Homo sapiens: one gene and its partner. The protein of the gene in region 2 purifies or fractionates together with the protein of the main gene of each other region. This does not show direct contact. Each region holds a gene or a part of one and is shown on either strand. Other genes may lie near its edges.

Region 1 (3,668 bases), on a different chromosome or scaffold from region 2:
ATAGATGAATTTAGTTTGGCACAATTTTGACTCAAATTAGCCTAGCACTTTAACAAATTCAGTCAAAAACAGAAAAATGCAAGCTTAAATGTTACAATTTTCTAAATGTGCTACATTCTTCACCAAACAGACTGATACAAGATGTCTTACGCAACTCTCGGGAATATTCAAATAAGCAATACCACACACAAACAAAATGCAGGATAACAGGATACTCAGAAACATACACACATACACACCCACACAAGTCCTTACCTTCATGGCATGGATTTCTTCAAGCAATCTTTGCGCCCGTCTTTGGTTTTTTAACAGTGCATCTTCAGTACCCCTGCAAAAAATACATTACGATATGTAGCCAGGCAAAGCATTAATTTTAGACTTATAGTGTAATGGATAATCACTTCATTTCTTTTTAGAAAAGCGTAATAAATCTCTAAATAACAAACACGCCACTATCCTACACTGTCCATTTCCCCCACTCCCAAAACACACCTCAATTTACTAACCAAACCCATATGTTGGAAAATGGCAAAAATAAGTACTGTCTTGCCATTGTATTAATGACTATTACTTTTGATAGTTTGCCTTCTCTAGTTCCTTAATAACACTTTTTTAAATCAATCAATCGTACATTGTATTTAATGTAATATAAATGTCATAATTTACAATTAGAGTTTGACTATAATTTTATCAAATGAAAATTTGCTCTCTGGCATTTAAGGAAAAAATAAAGAAGGGCTATATTCTGACATATTTATGAAAGAATAGGAAATTAATCAGGAACAAAACATACTTGAAGACTAAGTATTCATGCTTACATCATAAAAAGAACTATAAATAAAATACTTTTTCACTAACACTAGTGATACTGAAAATACAAAATATTGTATTTTTCCAAAAAATTACATGGAACACAATGTTCTAATAAACACTTTCATAAGGTACTGAAGATTTCAAATTACTTAGCAATTCAAGAAAAAATGTGATATAAAATCTTCAAAACTGATTCTTAAGGTATTACTAGATTTGTTAAGCTGTATCAGTATCTTAAAATAACTTCTGATAACACAAAACACACAAGCCCAAGGGAATTTCATTCTAAAAAGACCAAAAGAGAGTTTTGCAAAAGCAGCAAAAAAATTCATCCTGTATCTTGAGCAATGATGGTCCAAACCATAGAAGGGCATGCTGACACAGCACATTCTATCTCACTCACATCATCTCCGCATACAAAACAAAAATGGTGTATAAGACATTTAATTACTTCTCTATATCCCACCCTAAACATTTTAAAGTATCAAATAAAAACAACTTTTGACATTTTATTAGTCACAAGATCATTACTTTAAATGACTAACTTTTTTGACTTCAGTCGGCCAACACTCCTGACAAGTTTTCGGATAACTAAAACTCGAATTCTCTTCACTTCTTTTCTCATCTTCACAACCTTTGAAGAATAAAGCAATAATTAGAAGAAAGGCACTTACTTCAGGAACAAACACACTTTATTTTGAGTCTTAATATTTGAGACTTAGTCTACCACTTTAACTACTTTTATTGTCTAACTATATTCGTAGCTTGATGAAATCAAACCTCTTCCATAAATAGTGAAGGAATAAATCAACAGTCTAAAAATGTGTCTGAGAGCTTAAGAAAAACAAGTTATAATTTTTTAAAAAGTCACAGTATTACCCGAGATAAGTATTTTAATGTTACACTTATATCTTGCTGGGCTTGGAATATAATAAACAGTGAGTTCCCTGAAATCACAGCCTGTCATATTCATCTTTGTATTCCCACCGTTAAAACAAAGCCTCACTCATAATGGTAGGAATTTAATTTGTTGAATGACTATTTTAATTAGCAAATTAGCTTTTAATTAGCAATTTATTTTACATATTTATAAAACAAATCTTTCATTATTTTTAGTAACAAATTATTTCAAGTATAATTTTAAAAGAAGATCCACAAACACAAGGGCATTGTGTGCAAGCATATGTGCATGTAAACATACATGCCCCCCCCCCACACACACATGCACACACATACAAATACATAATTTAAATCACCCTACTGGAGAACAATGTTTAACTCTAAGAACAAAAAGCAGAGCTATAGGCCAAAAAATGGAAATTATAGTTATAAAAAAAATACACATTATAACAGCTTTCAGTGCAATGGCATGTAATTACGGAGTTTATATTTCATCTATCAGTTACGAGGCATACATCTTAAAAATTACTCCTGGAATGTCCTTCTTCCCCTTCTTCACTTTAGGAACTATATAAAATTCAGGTTCAGATATAGTCATTCCAGTGATACCTTCAATGACTTCTTCAGTTAAGGATAACCACTCCATCCCTGGGGTCCCCACTATACAGATTCTGTCATTAAAGCATCTACCTCACTGCACTGTTACTAATGGCTCATGTGGCTGTCTTTTTCTATAGACAGCAAGCTCCTAGAAAACAGGAGTCTTGTAATATTTATATAGTGTTTTCTTTGCCCTGCAAGAGTGCCTGGCACAAAAAATTCCTCAAATTCTTCTTGCCAAAATAACATTATCAACATCATCCTGTTTCTTTAAGGCTCTTCCATTTAATTAATATCTTCTCTTACCCTTCATGTCATTCACTCCCTTATTCACTGAAGATATTAGCAACCAACTTACAATTTCTTTACACCCTAAGTTCTGCCATCATTCTGTGTAACTTGCATGTCCACTTGAATAGCCCATCTGATAATTATATCTTCACTTCTTTACTTATTTTCTAAAGACCTAATCTATTCTATCTCAGCCATCCACTTCCATGGCCACACTGTCAACCTTGTCATCACTCATAATATTCAATTTCTAAAACCATTAATTCAAATATTCCACACTGTGATCACAACCTCTATCAGCTTGCTTGTTCAACTCCACCCACCACAACCATCTTTGACTTCATTAGGACCACCAATCCACTGACTCCTACACTTAATGTTCCTCTTTTTATGCAGTTTAGATACATGATAACATCTGCCAATTTCTTAAACTCCTGCCCCTCTGGTGAGGAAACCGTAGTCCTGAATGAAAAAAACACTCTGAGTTCTTCATTGTCATATGCCAACAGCAAATACTTGTAACATTCTGTCTACTATAAATTCATCATAATTAACCTCAAGTGGACCCCCATTCTTCCTAGCCATCCTGTATTTTTCTGTTCAGTTCACTCTACAATGCCTGTTTTAAGCTTTTGCCTACTCTCCTAAATCCTCTAGTCTCCGTCCTCCTTTCTCTCTTTCAATCGTGTGGAGAAAATAATTATCAGTTGGGAACCATCATTTTTCTACTACCATGAATGCAAATGTACTTCCATGACCCATCTTCCTTTACGAATAAAGTTACAATATAAGAAATACCACTACACATATCTGAGTTTATCTTTTAACTGTCTTTTAGAGCCCATTCTCTTCTGCCTTCCTAGAACCTCTACTATGGATTATCCCTTTACCATAGCATTGTCATTCTCTTCCTTTTAATGCATTTGTTTCCCACTGATTTTTAAACATGATTGAGTCATTTTCATTAGAGACTAAATAAACATCCTCATTACATGGTTCACTAGGACCACTCCCTCTTCAGTTGTGTGGAGAACTAAGCTTTTAGAAAGAGACGTCCAAACTCA
Region 2 (3,668 bases):
TTGGGCTGTGTGCATGCCCATGCGTGCTGTAGAGCTAAGATCCTGCACTATTAAGAAGATATTCTCTTTTCTATGGTATTGGCTTGTTTTACAGTGAAAGAATGGATTTCTCAGAACTTTATGCTAAAAACATATAGGCTGGTGAGCCGTAATTTAAAAAAACACGGAAGAGAAGTTCTGAAATCATAATAAATACTCAGCATTATAAACTGATGTAGTGCTTTTAAGTTAGGGTCATTGTCTTTTTGTTGGGAAGACATGAGCTGTTAACATCACTTTTGAAATGAAAGAAGTCTTGTGGCATTTGCCACTTGAGTGAGACTTTTGTCTCTGAAGTCACTGAATCACTGAGCCAGCCCTTGACCAGTCAGTGGGGCAACTTCTCTCTTGTGTGCTCTGAGCTGCTCTACTAGTTAAAGCTATTTGTTGACTCAAATTGAAGTTAATGCACGTTTATAAAGGTAAAAACTTTTGAGGCTCTTTTCTTGACAACTAAGCTAGAATTTGTGGAAAAATTAGGAGAGATAAAGGAGAGTTGGCTGCTTAGATATGGACTTACGGATTCATAGATTTTTGGGTATGAATCTCTTTGGTTGGGGAGTGAAGGCTTCGCTTAGGTTGGACCTGTCAGGAGGGGCGGCCTGTTTCTGAGAAGTGGAAACAGCATTGAGGCTTCTTGGACCTGTTAGGAGAGTACCAAGAACATACTAGGTTTTCCTATTTGCTGCCTTTTTTCCATAGGGGTGGGAGACGGGGGACATAGAATTACGAGTTTCTCTTCCCATTGGAGGGATTTCTTTTTGAAGTAGTGAGAAGTAAATCACCCAATAGCTTCTCTCTTCCCCCCTTTTAAAATGTCTTTTGTGGGCTGGTGGGCATTTGTATTTGTTCATTAACGATGTTTTAGTATTTGCAATACTAAATAAAAACATTGTTTTTCTTTTTTTCCAGGAAAGTCCCCAGAGGAAAAAAAGGAAATCAGAAGCTGTAGGAATGAGTAACCAGACTGACTTATTGGCTCTTGGCACAGCAGTTGGTAGCATTTTATTATACAGCACAGTAAAAGGAGAGTTACACAGTAAATTAATAGTAAGTGTGTGTATATTTTATTTAAAAGTGATGTGACAGGGAAGCTGATTATTAGAGATTATTAAAAAAAAAACACTTCAAGGTATGTGATGGGATCTGTGCAGTAGGGACAGTTTTCAGTCTCATCTACGTTTAAATAACTGAATAGTAATATTTGATAAAAGCTATAATAGTTAACAGCAGTCCTTATTATGGGTCAGAGTATGAAGACTTATTGACTAGGTTTAAAATAAGGAAGGGTTACAGGAACTCTAAGGAATCATAGATAGCAGCTGTGGAAAGCAGCTCCCCACCTCTTGACCTAGGGGAATAAAGGAGGCAGTTGAAATTACTGCTAACACTGAGATCTTTTAGGGGCAAGTGTTGTGCTGCTGTTGCTGTCTCTTGAAGAGTGGCCCCATGGGCATGGGATCGAGACTTCAAACTGAGAAGGAGGCTCCAGCTGCCTGGTGCTAGTGTCTCTGATGGAGATGATGAGATTGGTTCTCCTAGGGTTGGATAAATTGGATATTGGGTTCAGCTGCTGCTGTTGGGCATTACCACTGTTGGGGTGATGCAAATAAAGAGACAGGAAGGAACAAGTCCCTTCTCTCTCCATCCTTGTCTCCCTCTAGCAGTTGCTATTGGTAGAACCTATGGATCGAGCTGGGAAATCAGAAATCAGGTTGCTGAGTCCCAGCATCACAGCAGAATATAAAGGATGGTTTGGCATTGGAAGACAGTAACCGAACTGGTCTAGTAGGTTCAGACAATATCTATTGCAGTGTGTTTTTGTTCGCTGGACTTCTGTATATAGGAGTGTTTTAAGTTTTTTGTTTTAAATAACATTTGTCTATAGGAAATTTGTAACTACATAAAGTTGAAAAGGAAAAAAATTTATACCTAAGTCTGTCGCCGAGAGGTCCTCTTAATAATTTGTATATTTCTTTGCTTTATACATACATTAAAAAAATATAGTTGGCTTTCTGTTCATCTAGTTTGTATCCTGATTTTTTTCATTAGATTACAACATAACTATCTTATATTTGTCAATAACTGGTTATAGAGATTTTTAGTGACTGCTTAAAATCCCAACAAGTGGGATAGTCCATTATGTTACTTAACTTGTTGACCATTTAGGGGTTTCCAGATTTTTAAATTGTTGTAAAACAATTTCTTTTTCTTACATGGATTCACAGAATTACTAACCTAAAATTAGTGAGCCAAAGGGTTGCTATATATGTAGTATAAAAATACTTTCTGGAATAATTTTTACTAATTTATGCTTAATATCAGTGATAGGAGATAAGTACTTTATCTCAGCAGTATCATTACCACTACTGAATAGCCCAACAAAACAGCAACAACGACAACAAAGAAACAGCTAATTTGGTAGAGGAATATTTTAATCTGATTTTAAGTTTGCATTTAGGAATGTATTACTTGTTTTTATATTAAGATTACAAAAATAATACTCAACTATAAATGAATTTTAAAGCATTCAGAGATCCATCTCAAGAAAGCATTCTTCCCTATATTCTTCCCCCCTCCTCCAAGTCGAGTGTGGTCCTCAGGTGAGCTCTTACACCTACTATAGGTAGGAGCCTATCCTTTAATTGGATAGGTTTTTTGTGTTCAGCAGGTACCTAGCATCTTGTGCAGTGTGATAGCTGCTCAGCTGCTGTGGCTGCTGGAGCCTAGAAGACTTATTTTTTTTTAAAGACAGAGTCTCACTCTGTCGCCCAGGCTAGAGTGCAGTAGTGCGGTCTCAGCTCACTGCAACCTCTGCCTCCTGGGTTCAAGTGATTTTCGTGCCTCAGCCTCCTGAGTAGCTGGGATTACAGACGTGCACCACCATAGCTGGCTCATTTTTGTATTTTTAGTAGAGATGGGGTTTTGTCATGTTGGCCATGCTGGTGTCGAACTCCTGGCCTCGTGTGATCTGCCTGCTTGGCCTCCTAAAGTGCTGGGGTTACAGGCATGAGCCACCATACCCAGCCTAGAACTCCTTTTTATATCATTTCACAACCTTACAAGATTGTAAATACATCTTCGACAGGGATGAATTTATCAAAAAGGAGTCAAGAGGGTCAGGGTGAGGGGTACTGGGATGGTATGGTAAGGTGGAAAAGGACCAGGCTTTGGAGCTAGTCTGTCCTGAGGTTGAATCCTACTAGTTGTATGATCATGTGTGAATAATTTAACTTCTCATCCCTTAAATGGGTATTAACAGCCTACCTTGCATGATTTTATTAAGACTTAAATGTAATAATGTATTGAAAGTGCCTGGCTTGTAAGTGGTATTTAGTAAATATTTGTTGAATGAGTAAGTGAACAAGTGAGTGAACACATCGCTAAATTGCTTTCCAAAAGGGTATGCTAGTTTACACTGCTGCTGGCAATAGTATTATGTAACCTCACCAGCATGGGCATCATAAGGCTAAACACATTGCTACAGGAACAGACTAAAAATGCCACTTTGTTTTGGTTTGTATTTCTTTGATTACTAACAAGGTTGAATATTTTGGTATATTTTCTAACTGAATTCTTTCTGTGGAATGTATCTGTTCATATCCTTTAGTTACTTGCGTGTATATAAG

The links.
Region 1: the proteins of WDR43 (region 2) and SRFBP1 purify together in Homo sapiens (co-immunoprecipitation; one large-scale study listed by IntAct). This does not show direct contact.

The regions. Positions count from the first base shown.
Region 1 is NC_000005.10:121,971,975-121,975,642, reverse strand, and holds part of SRFBP1 (serum response factor-binding protein 1), read right to left. Parts: intron 1,448-3,668; coding exon 1,359-1,447; intron 329-1,358; coding exon 256-328; intron 1-255. UniProt on the Homo sapiens protein: May be involved in regulating transcriptional activation of cardiac genes during the aging process. May play a role in biosynthesis and/or processing of SLC2A4 in adipose cells.
Region 2 is NC_000002.12:28,901,036-28,904,703, forward strand, and holds part of WDR43 (WD repeat-containing protein 43), read left to right. Parts: intron 1-951; coding exon 952-1,089; intron 1,090-3,668. UniProt on the Homo sapiens protein: Ribosome biogenesis factor that coordinates hyperactive transcription and ribogenesis. Part of the small subunit (SSU) processome, first precursor of the small eukaryotic ribosomal subunit.